Homo sapiens: one gene and its partners. The protein of the gene in region 1 interacts with the protein of each later gene in a biochemical or structural test. Each region holds a gene or a part of one and is shown on either strand. Other genes may lie near its edges.

The links.
Region 2: the proteins of SHROOM4 (region 1) and MAP2K2 interact in a test that uses a peptide from one of them, tested with the Homo sapiens proteins (one large-scale study listed by IntAct).
Region 3: the proteins of SHROOM4 (region 1) and RASSF6 interact in a test that uses a peptide from one of them, tested with the Homo sapiens proteins (one large-scale study listed by IntAct).

What each region holds. Positions count from the first base shown.
Region 1 is NC_000023.11:50,807,583-50,811,236, reverse strand, and holds part of SHROOM4 (protein Shroom4), read left to right. Parts: intron 1-3,654. UniProt on the Homo sapiens protein: Probable regulator of cytoskeletal architecture that plays an important role in development. May regulate cellular and cytoskeletal architecture by modulating the spatial distribution of myosin II.
Region 2 is NC_000019.10:4,096,565-4,100,218, reverse strand, and holds part of MAP2K2 (dual specificity mitogen-activated protein kinase kinase 2), read left to right. Parts: intron 1-804; coding exon 805-1,018; intron 1,019-2,875; coding exon 2,876-2,940; intron 2,941-3,654. UniProt on the Homo sapiens protein: Catalyzes the concomitant phosphorylation of a threonine and a tyrosine residue in a Thr-Glu-Tyr sequence located in MAP kinases. Activates the ERK1 and ERK2 MAP kinases.
Region 3 is NC_000004.12:73,585,864-73,589,517, forward strand, and holds part of RASSF6 (ras association domain-containing protein 6), read right to left. Parts: intron 2,072-3,654; coding exon 1,977-2,071; intron 1-1,976.

The DNA of each region.
Region 1 (3,654 bases):
CTCCCAGGCTCAAGCAACCCTCCCACCTCAGCCTCCCAAGTAGCTGGGACTACAGGCACACGCTACCATGCTTGGCTGATTTTTTGTATTTTTGTATTTTTGTATTTCACCATGTTGCCCAAACTGGTCTCCAACTCCTTCAAACAATCTGCCTGCCTCAGCCTCCCAAAGTGCTGGGATTACAGGCGTGAGCCACCACTCCTGGCCAAATAGCTAATCTTTTATGCTAGCTCTGGCTCTCTTCTCAGAAGTGTTGCTGCAGAGTGAGGAAAATGAAGCTTTGCTTCATTTGCATACAGTGTTACTATTTACAATGTGCTTCCTCATCCTTTATTTCATTACTCTCTTGCAGCTACACTGTGAGGCAGTCAGGAAAGATTGTGGAGAAACTGATGGAAAACCCGAGACTGATGTATTCAGTGGCTTACCTATGTCTATCATACTGAGAGTCAATGGCAGTCCTACTAAGAGAGTTTCTGATTCTTCTGTTAGTACTGTGGTTTGTGAAGGAGCACAGGGCAATAACTTTCAGGGATGTATCTAGTCTTATTAGCCTCCTAATGCAGTGTCCCTTTCCATGCCAGCCTGTAATTCCATACTTGGTGACGGACTGGGTTGTAGGTACACTCTGATGGAGTCTGGGCTCAGAGTAGGAAAGGACTATTTTGATGACCCCAAATCACTTGTGATGATCTCAGGTCAGGGAGAGACAGAGGTAAGGTGCAGGAAGCATGGTGGAAAATGGCAGAGAACCTCCTTTGTGGAAAAAAAACCAGAAGCGGTTTGCATCAGGGATGGTGTGGCATACATGCTCAGAGATATCTTGTGGCACAAGTGGAGATATCTGGGGAGTGGGGGAATTTGAAAAAGTAGTGATTAGTGGGGGAAGAGGGTATGCAGTGTGAAAGTCTAGTTCATAGTTGTCATGGGAGACCCTTTGGACCAGGAAATGATCAAGTTGGGGAAATCATCAATTCCTGCTGGTTCCTATGATTTCCCTGAATATGGGGAATTCAACTGCCTGATTTATGGACACTTGTATAGTACCCCCCGACAGTCAAGTGGCAAAGAAAGAGAAAATTTTTTAATACTATTGCTGGATGCGGTGTCTTGCACCTGTAGTCCCAGCTACTCAGGAGGCTTAGGTAAGAGGAATCCCTAGAGCCCAGGAATTCCAGGCTGCAGTGTACCATGATTGGGCAACATAGTGTGACCCCACCTCCAAAAAATAAAATACGATTGATTATCCTAAATAATAAGGGATAGTTTATGATGTTTCCCTATATTGTGGTGTTTCGAGTGAGATCATGGTAACAAGTAAAAGATACATGACCCATAAAGGAATAGGGCCCATGACATTGGCATTATTGATTCCTTTGGTTAACATGTTACGCTACCTCATTGACTCAGAAGTACTGTCTGGATGGAATGGGGATTCTCTTCTAATCAGATGTGTCTGATGATATGTAGGCTCATGCTAACATATTTTCCCTTTTCTTGGCTCGTTTATGGTAGATGTTTCTATCTGGCATAGTGAAGCAAGTGGGGCTAGTTACTGCCCTGGAACAAAACAGAGTGGGGTAGGGGAGTAACCTGGAGGAGAAAGAAGCTTTACTCCCATCCACTTGATGTGCTCTGATATTGCTATATAATTTTACACTCTCCAGACCCAAGTCTCTATTTGCAGAGTGGGGCCTAGGCATAACTGCCCCATCTCTATTATCACAGATGATGAGACAATGAATTAGGCAAACTCTAATAGTGTTTGCCATCCTTAGCCTAGGACAGTGGCAGGGCATGCTCATCAAGTTGTTTTAGTCTGTATTCCATTCCTAGTCTGACCTTATTTCTAGAAGCACACAGAGAGGCAGTTGAGACTTCAAGAGGATCTGGATAAACTCAGATAGAGGTTGTCTTGTGGCTGGAAGTAAATTTGGCTGTGATTTTGAATTCTTATTGGGTGCAGAGGTGGTATTATGTGAACAATGAGAGTTCCTGTGAAATCTTTTGAGCTGTGTTACAGACCAGTGCCTGGCACTCACAAAGGGACCTTCGTGGGGTGTGCATCTTTGGAGCTTAGTCCAGCCTGGTTACCTACATGAATCCCCTCCTCATTTCTGCCTCTAGAATCACCAAAGATGTCCACTACCTCAGTTTCCCACCTGCTGCCCTATCCCAGAAAGTAGAGGGCATTTTGAGGCATGGATTAGAAATCCATCAGAGAGATACAAAGAAGGTTGGAGGGAGGTGGAGCAAGAAGGGTGGGTGGTATGGCTGGTAACCCTTGGCTGAGCTTTGAGTCGATACTACTTTTGGCCCTGCTGGGTTTTCATAATACACCTGGTACCCCATTGAGAGCCACATGTATGCTTGCTGAAGTTAAAAAAGGTCAAGCCTATTAGAGGATTTTCCCTCTCCAAAACTTCACACAAAGAAAATAATTCAACTCCATTGTCCCTTAAAAAAATTAAAATGATTTCCCCCCTTGCCTTCCCCAACCCCCTCCCCAGGAATTTCTTTAAAGAAAAAAGAGAGACTCAGACTTGAGATTGGAGGTTATGGATGATTATCTGGAGGGAACATCATGGCTTTTATAGTTAGACTTCTTTAGAACTAAGGGAAAAAAGATGCTGACCCATCTGAGAAAAGTTAATGAAGAACAGCAGGGATTATGGGAAGGGCTGCTCTCACTGCCTGCCCCTCTACCCCTCAAGCACCAAGGGGCAGACTTAACTCAGTGCTCCCAGAGTAATTCTGTTCTTGGTAGAGACCTAGAATCAAAGAATCTCAGAGTAAAGAGAGCCTTTTAGAAGTCACCTAGTCTAATCTTAACCATTTCATGAGCCTCCTGTGCAGTGTCCCTGAGCTTGTTCTACAGTAGTCACAGGGGAGCTCATTCCCTTCTAAGCCTATCCATTCTGTTGCTGGAAAGTTTTGACTGTGGACAGCTTTTCCTTTGTTAAGCTGCAATCGTTTTCCTTTTAGCGATCATCCATGGGTCCTAGCTGTATCCTCTGGATAGCATCACACAGAACAAGGGTGCTTCCTCTGTCTTGGGACAGCCCTTGGGATATCTGAAGGCAAATATTATATCATCTTGTTTCACTTTTCTAGCAGAGCCCTAGCTCTTTCAGCTGTTCCTTATGGGATGTAGATTCCAGCCTCTCCTCCTGTTTCCTCCTCCCACTCATGATGCACTTCAGCTTGTCCATGTTCCTCTTAAGTTATGGATCCCACAGCTGAATACTGTAACTGAGGAGAATCTGACCACAGTTGAGTATGAACATTCTTTAAAAAAATACAGCTGAAGATCACTTTGGCTCTTTCTGGCGGCCATGTCATACCAAGGCCCTGTGTCAAAATCTTTTAATGGAAGTAGCTGTGCTGCTATTAAGCCATACCTGCCTAAGGCCTCTATGAAGGCATCTGGGACAGCCACATAATAGATTTGGGAGGGACACATTTCATCTCCTACTATTTATTTAGAATTGCCTCTGCCCCTAGCCCTGGCCAGCCTTGGTAAATGCATCGTAGGGGAGATGAGAGAGAAGATATAAGCCCTGACTTCAAGGAACATGTATGTTTAAACAAAGAGATTATTAAGTTACAGAGAAGGAATTTGTATAATAGAAGAAGGAAATGGCATTTAATGAA
Region 2 (3,654 bases), on another chromosome or scaffold:
GCTGGAGTGCAGTGGCGCCATCTCCGCTCACTGCAAGCTCCGCCTCCCGGATTCACACCATTCTCCTGCCTCAGCCTCCCGAGTAGCTGGGACTACAGGCGCTCGCCACCACGCCCGGCTAATTTTTTGTGTTTTTAGTAGAGACAGGGTTTCACCATGTCAGCCAGGATGGTCTCAATCTGACCTTGTGATCCGCCCGCCTCGGCCTCCCAAAGTGCTGGGATTACAGGCGTGAGCCACCGTGCCCGGCAGCCTTGGCTAACTTTTAAAAAAATGTTTTTAGTAGAGATGGGGTCTCGCCATATTGGCTAGCCTAGTCTTAACTCCTGGGCTTCCACCTCAACCTCCCAAAGTGCTGGGATTACAGGCATGGGCCACTGCACCCGGCCCTTAGTTAATTTCTGGACCAAGGAATTGGAATCTGGGGTCTTTCAGGAAACGACTGGGGATTCAGCAACCTGCCAAATTGAGCCTTGGAGCAGCCTCTGAGATGTTAGCTGTGGAGGAGGAGGCCCCTGCTTCCTGGGGCCCATCATCCATTCCCAAAAGTGCTGAGCATTGCAGGCTCTTCAAGAGCTGCGGTCAACACCAGCTCCAGGCCTCGGGCTGGAAGCCTCTTCAGCAAGTGCCGCAGGGAGGCCCTGGGTGGGTGAGCCGGGAGGTAGAATTGCGTAACAGCTCTCTATCCATTGCTGCGGTCATTAGCCATGGAGAGGGTGACGGGGGCTGTAACGGGGCAAGCCTCCCGGGTTCCAGCTGCCATCCTCGCCCCTCTGGGCTCTTTCCTCCCTGGCTCTGCTGCAGCCGGAGCGGTTGCAGGGCACACATTACTCGGTGCAGTCGGACATCTGGAGCATGGGCCTGTCCCTGGTGGAGCTGGCCGTCGGAAGGTACCCCATCCCCCCGCCCGACGCCAAAGAGCTGGAGGCCATCTTTGGCCGGCCCGTGGTCGACGGGGAAGAAGGAGAGCCTCACAGCATCTCGCCTCGGCCGAGGCCCCCCGGGCGCCCCGTCAGCGGTACGGCCTGAATCTGCAACTTCCGGTCTGGACGCGCAGTGCCCTGCGCGGGGCCTGCTGTGCCAGGGTCAGCAGCTGCCTCCCCTCTGCCCCTGGCGCACCACCTGTCCCCCTGGATGGTGCCGACTGTGGTCAGCAGTCCTCCCATGGTCCTGGGGTTTCCGGGGACAGAGCTGGAAGCAGTGAGCACCCCAAACCTGTTCTGTCCGGGGCAGCTGCACCTGTTGTTGCCAGCTGGAGGGATCTGGGAGCGCAGCTTTGCCACCAAGCCCCTGGGCAGTTGGATTTTCCAACATTTTATCCCGAAAGCATTCAAACGCACAGAAAAGTGGAAGGAATTGGCCGCCACAGAGCCTGCATTCTGCAGGTGACACGCTCCTGTGCTGCGGGCCAAGCCTTCCAGGGAGTCCTGAAGTGGAGATTGGACTTGGCATGGCCCTCAGTGGCCTGTTGGCTCCGGCCCCAACACACACAGGAGGGGACACAGCCCGGGAGGGGGCGGGAGGGCTCAGGCCCCAGGGACAGCTGGGCTCGCAGAGGACAATCCGGCACTTAGGGCGGGCACCTCGGGAGCGGGAGCTCCCTGACGCCAGTCAGAGAGGGCCGAGCGGACACTTCCACCGCCTGAGGGAAGAGCCGGGGGCGGACCCTGCTTGGTGCAGAATCACAGGAGGGTCCTGTGATTTTTTTTAAAGTCAGACATCAGGGAGAGTTGGTGGCGTCAGACCCCAAAGGACCCTGTAGCGGACTGTGGTTGGTTTTAAAACCATGTTTCCGAACTACAAAGCACACACCCCACAACTCATTTCAGGTGAGCAGTTCAGTGGTTTTCAGTCACAGTGCTGCGCCCCATCACCTCTAATTCCAGAACCTTCTCAGCTCCCCAAGAGGAAACCCTGTCCCCATCAGCTGTCACTCTCCATCCCCTTCCTGCCTCTGGACTGGCCTGTCCTGGGCATTTCACAGAAATGGGGTCACACACTTGTGTGGCCTTCTGTGTTTTGTGTGTGGCTTCTCTCCTGGAGCGCAGTGTCCTCAAGGGTCATCCACGCCATGGTGCGTGTCAGAGCCTGGGTCCTTTTGAAAGGCTGAGTAGTATTTTATGACACGAACAGGCCACGTTTTGTGGTCCTACCCGGATGGATTGGGGCTGTGAGAAGGAGATTTTCATAGCACTGGCAAGCCCACCTCCTCCTCTCCAGCCAGACTGCTGGGATGTCTTGATCTCATCCCAGGGAGAGGCCCCCAAGTCCTTATCCTCAGGCCTAGCCTCAGCCTCTCCCAGTCCCAACTCTCAGGTGGTATACCATCCCCAGCCCAGGGCCCCAGCCCACCTGCCCATTTCAGGACGGGCAGAAGGCGAAAGTCCAGCTGCCAAGCCCAGGCCTGGCCAGCTGGTTCTCAGACAGGGGTCAGCCACCCCTAGCCAGTCTCCCGTCCTGAGTGGCACTTGGGGCCTGCCCCCATCACCGCCAGCAGCTCCATGCAAGGTCACGCGGCTGTCCTTGCCTGCGGTCAGCACCGTCCCTCCCCCTGCCCTCCAGAGAGGAGGGGTGATGACTTTGGCACGTCCGGCAAGCCTCACCGAGCCAAATGTGTGACTTCTCAAAAAATGTTCTTGTTCCTTTTGCCTTTTTTTTAATTCACTAGAGGCTCAGGCAAGGAGTAGCTGTCCCAGGGAATGGAACCCAGAGTCAGGCAGGGGAGCTTTGTCCAGTGCCTCTGCACACCCGCCTCCAATTTAGGCTGGCATGTGGAGGAGGGCGCCTGGTGGTGATCAGCCCCCTGGGAGCCCAACCCCCAGCAGAAGTGAGGTGGCCATCGGCCCATCTCACCTCCATCTCTCTCCCTGTGCAGGTCACGGGATGGATAGCCGGCCTGCCATGGCCATCTTTGAACTCCTGGACTATATTGTGAACGAGGTTTGTGCTTGATGCCTTTTGGCTTTTCTTTTCCTTTTCTTTCTTCTTTCTTTTTTTTTTTTTTTTTTTTTTTAGGCAGAGTCTCTCTCTGACCAGAGCAAGAGTCACCAAGGCTGGAGTACAGTGGTGCCTTCTCGGCTCACTGAAACCTCCACTTTCCAAGCTCATGTGATTCTCGTGCCTCAGCCTCCCGAGTAGCTGGGATTACAGGTGCGCACCACCACACCCAGCTAATTTTTTTTTTTTTTTTTGAGACATTGTCTAGCTTTGTAGTGCAGTGGCTTGATCTCAGCTCACTGCAACCTCCGCCTCCCAGGTTCAAGCAATTCTTGAACCAATTCCACGTGTGTCGCGTCTCCCATCTTCTACTGTGCTGCACAAGCCCAGCTCCTTCCCAAGGGCATTGTTTTTTTATGAAGACGAACCCAGAATTCCCACCGCAGCCTCTCACCCTGAGTCCAGAGGGAGGTGTGTGCCAGCAGCCCTGGGCTCAGGCCGAGGAGCCAGCCTGCCCCTTGAGCAGTGGCCCAGTGTCTCTGCATCAGAGCGTCCTGGCGCCCGTGGGCGTGGACTCATAAATCACCCCGCTTCCACGGAGAAAGGTACAGGAATGGCCCTTGCCTCTTGGAAGGAGGCCCAGAGAGCCTAGAAGGACCTGTAGGTCCCGGGGTGGCTCCTGCTCCGTCAGTCCCCATAACAACCCAGTGAGCCACA
Region 3 (3,654 bases), on another chromosome or scaffold:
AGGGTAATGTGCACAATGTGCAGGTTAGTTACATATGTATACATGTGCCATGCTGGTGTGCTGCACCCATTAACTCGTCATTTAGCATTAGGTATATCTCCTAATGCTATCCCTCCCCCCTCCCCCCACCCCATTATATGTTGGCCCAAGTTCTTTGGAGCTTTTCCTAAAAAATAAACACTGGGCCTTAGTTTTCCTATAAAACTACAGAAAGCTCTTTGAGAAGCTATTTATATGGTATGTGGAGCATTGAAAGATTTTGTTCCCATCTTTTATAAAAGCAAAAGGAATAGTATGCTTTGGACTAGTCCTACTATTTGTAATATATCACATTATGTTCTTTTTAGAACATTCCAGATGTATGATATGAATGACTTTTTCACTTAGTTGTCCACTATCCTATTATTTCTTCTCATTGAGTCATGTATATTTAACAATGATTCATAATTGATTAGTCAAAATTTGGTTACTGAATTATTACAATTTCTATAGCAGATTTTAGAGTATAAAATTATAGTGTAGCGTTGAACAACTCTAGTATCTATTGAGTAGGCAGAAGGTGTTTAAATGGAATTGAATTGAGCTACAATGTGTTACTAGCCTAAGATGCAGAAGATTCAAACCTGCCTTCTGCCCCCCTTTCTGCTTGTATACAATTGATAGTACCTTTTTCAATTTCCTCTCCTATGCATATTCATATGTAAGAATAAGACCATGTGGTGGCATTTGTGTTTTATTTTACTTTAGGATTTTAAAAAATTTTCTACTGTAATTAGAACATTATCAAATAGGCATGAGATATTTCTTCCTTCTCTAGCACTGCTGTTTAAATACAAATATATTTTTATGATGTCTTTGATGCCAAGATACTGGGATTTCCTTGGGTTTCATATATATTTCTAAAAGATAATTGGAAGGGCCGATATTTAACAAGATGTAAAGATCCCATGGCATAAAGAGAAAAGGGAACCCTGGAAGGAACATCATGTTTGTCACAGGATCTGGGTTCCTGTGGAATAGCAGACGAGGCAGAATTGAGAATGATTTGAAAAAAAAAAAAAGAGAACAAACATTGCAAGTTGCTGGTAGGCTTATGAAGTTAATGCTAGTGGGATACCTTTGTTCACACTGAACTGACTTCGTAAATCACAGCCCCATTTCAGGCACATGAACCCTGTCCACCACCCCTCATTCTAGCTTCAGTCATCAGCATCCACTACTCTTTGAATCTTATGTGTTTATGAGAATTACATGAAAAAATTCATATAAAGTACAAAATATTATGCCTGATACTTACCAGAGTCTCATCAGATTACAGCTATCAATATCACTATTATTACTCTCACATCATCACCATTATGATTATAACTACTAATGTCACACATCCCTGGAGCTGGCATTTCCCATTGGTTTGCCAAGTTCAGTATGGATCCATTTGATCCTTAAGTATATTTCTCTTTTAAAAAGATCTCTGAAATAACTCTATCAAATATAAAATTGACTCCAGCATATCTGTGTCTTTCTGAGAAGTAATGTTATTGACATATCTATTAACTAACTAAAACGTTCAACTTCTAAAAAGATACAGAATTAGGTCTGATGGGCTTGGCCTAACATATAAAGCTATTGGGAATAATAAATGACTCTAATCTTTGGGGAAGATATTTAACAATTTTATGAATACAAACTTTATTAAAACTATTAGCTCTCCCTATTCTAATAAATCTAAGTGACATAATATAATTTTTTTAAGAATTATATTTTTATATACCAAAGTAAGGTTCTTAAACATCATACAAGCACTATAGTGACTTAAGTTACTATGCTCCTAAGATATTTAAAAATATATATACATATAAAACAAGAGTTTATTGTGTAGTAGTATGAAAAAGGTTAGATTTCAGAGAAACATATGGAGTCATACTTTACACTAATTAAAAATTAAGTCTCCCAATCAATAAGATTTTGATACTGACCTTCCTGGGAATTCCTTTTTTCAGACATAGGAATCTGGGTCCTGTCCAGCTCACTAATACGATAGAGATCGTCAAATTCCCCCCAGCGTGTCATTCTGAGAAGTAATAAATCTTGTAAGTACATCAGTTCCATTTATATTGAAGCCTATGATGGTTTCCAGATTTACAATATTAATATAGTAATACTGTGGGCCTCTGTAGGTGGATATATTGTCCAAAGTTATAACAATTTTATGATATTATTAAAATTATATTCATACCAAAGTGGTCAATATATGTTTTAAATGCTTCCTGTACTTTTATAGAGCATATCTTTTTGACGTAATAATTCAGTTACATACTGAAACACAAGTTATATAGATTCTGTAAAACATATGTCCAAATTGAATTAGTAGAAACCAAGATGATCAATTGTTATAAAGATATTTCACAATACTCTTAGGGGAGCTTGGGTATAAAAGTGTTCTTTATACATTCTGTCAATATGTATTGTACCTTTTGCATTCAAAACATTGTTAGGTAGAGTGGCTCTAAAATAATAAAATATAGTGCCTATCGTTTAAGGCCCTTGACTACCATGAAGAATGTAGTTTACGAAGGAGGAAAATGTATGAGAATTTTGCCAGAAAATTATGATTTCATAAAGAAACTAGCAATTTTAAGTGCATTCTAGTGCTCAGAATACATGAAACCTGACAAATGTTTATTTTTACGGCAGGTCAAAACTCAATTTTATTTTATTTATCTGGTCTTAAACAAGTTTCTTATCCCCTCTGTGCCTGTGTCCTCATCTGTAAAATAAAAATGATAATAGCATGAGGTAGGATAGGGTTGTTTTGAGGATTAAAAGAGTTAATTTGTATAAAATTCTTGAATCAGTGCCCTGAAAATAGTAAGCATTCAATATAGATTAACAATAATTATAATTATCCTCATCTCCATTGTCATCATCATCATCATCATCATCATCATCATCATCACCAGCATCTGTATCTATTTCATTCCTGATGGGCCAGGAACCATTAGGGACCCAAGGTGTTCCTGGATCTCTCTAGGCAAATGGTTGCTATTATCTAAGAATCTCTTCAGTAATGTCTGTTTTTCTTATGACTAAAATATATTCACTTATAGGGAATTTATGGCATTGACTCTGCCCGAATTTCATTGGTGGCAACAAAAAATATTTATTAATACTAATGGTAGTGAATATGAAGAAAGTCATCCCTTATCCTCTTTACTTTTGAATTCTTTTGAAGCGTGTTTTATGGCTACTATATCATTTGAGTCTCACAATAGCCTTATGATGTAGAGAAGGTAATCCTAATATATTTGTTAATTTTCCAGCAAGCTGTACTATTCAGAATACAGCCAATCAAAACAAATGTCATAAAGCCCAACTACAGGTAATAACTTTAACTCAAAGGAAAACTACCAGGTCCTGACTCAGAATCTAATTAGTCTTATGGCAGATAAAATTACCCATTTCCCCAAATCTATAGCAGCTTAATAATCAGAAAGTGGCAGACATAATTATCGTAGAAGGGGGGTTAGGAATGGAAAAGTCAATACCAATGAAAAACAGAAACTAAAAATGCAAAGTAACCTGATGCTATGTCATAGGGCTAAAGATAAGAATCCCCAGGATGCCAGTCAAATTCTCGGTGACCCTCGCAGACGT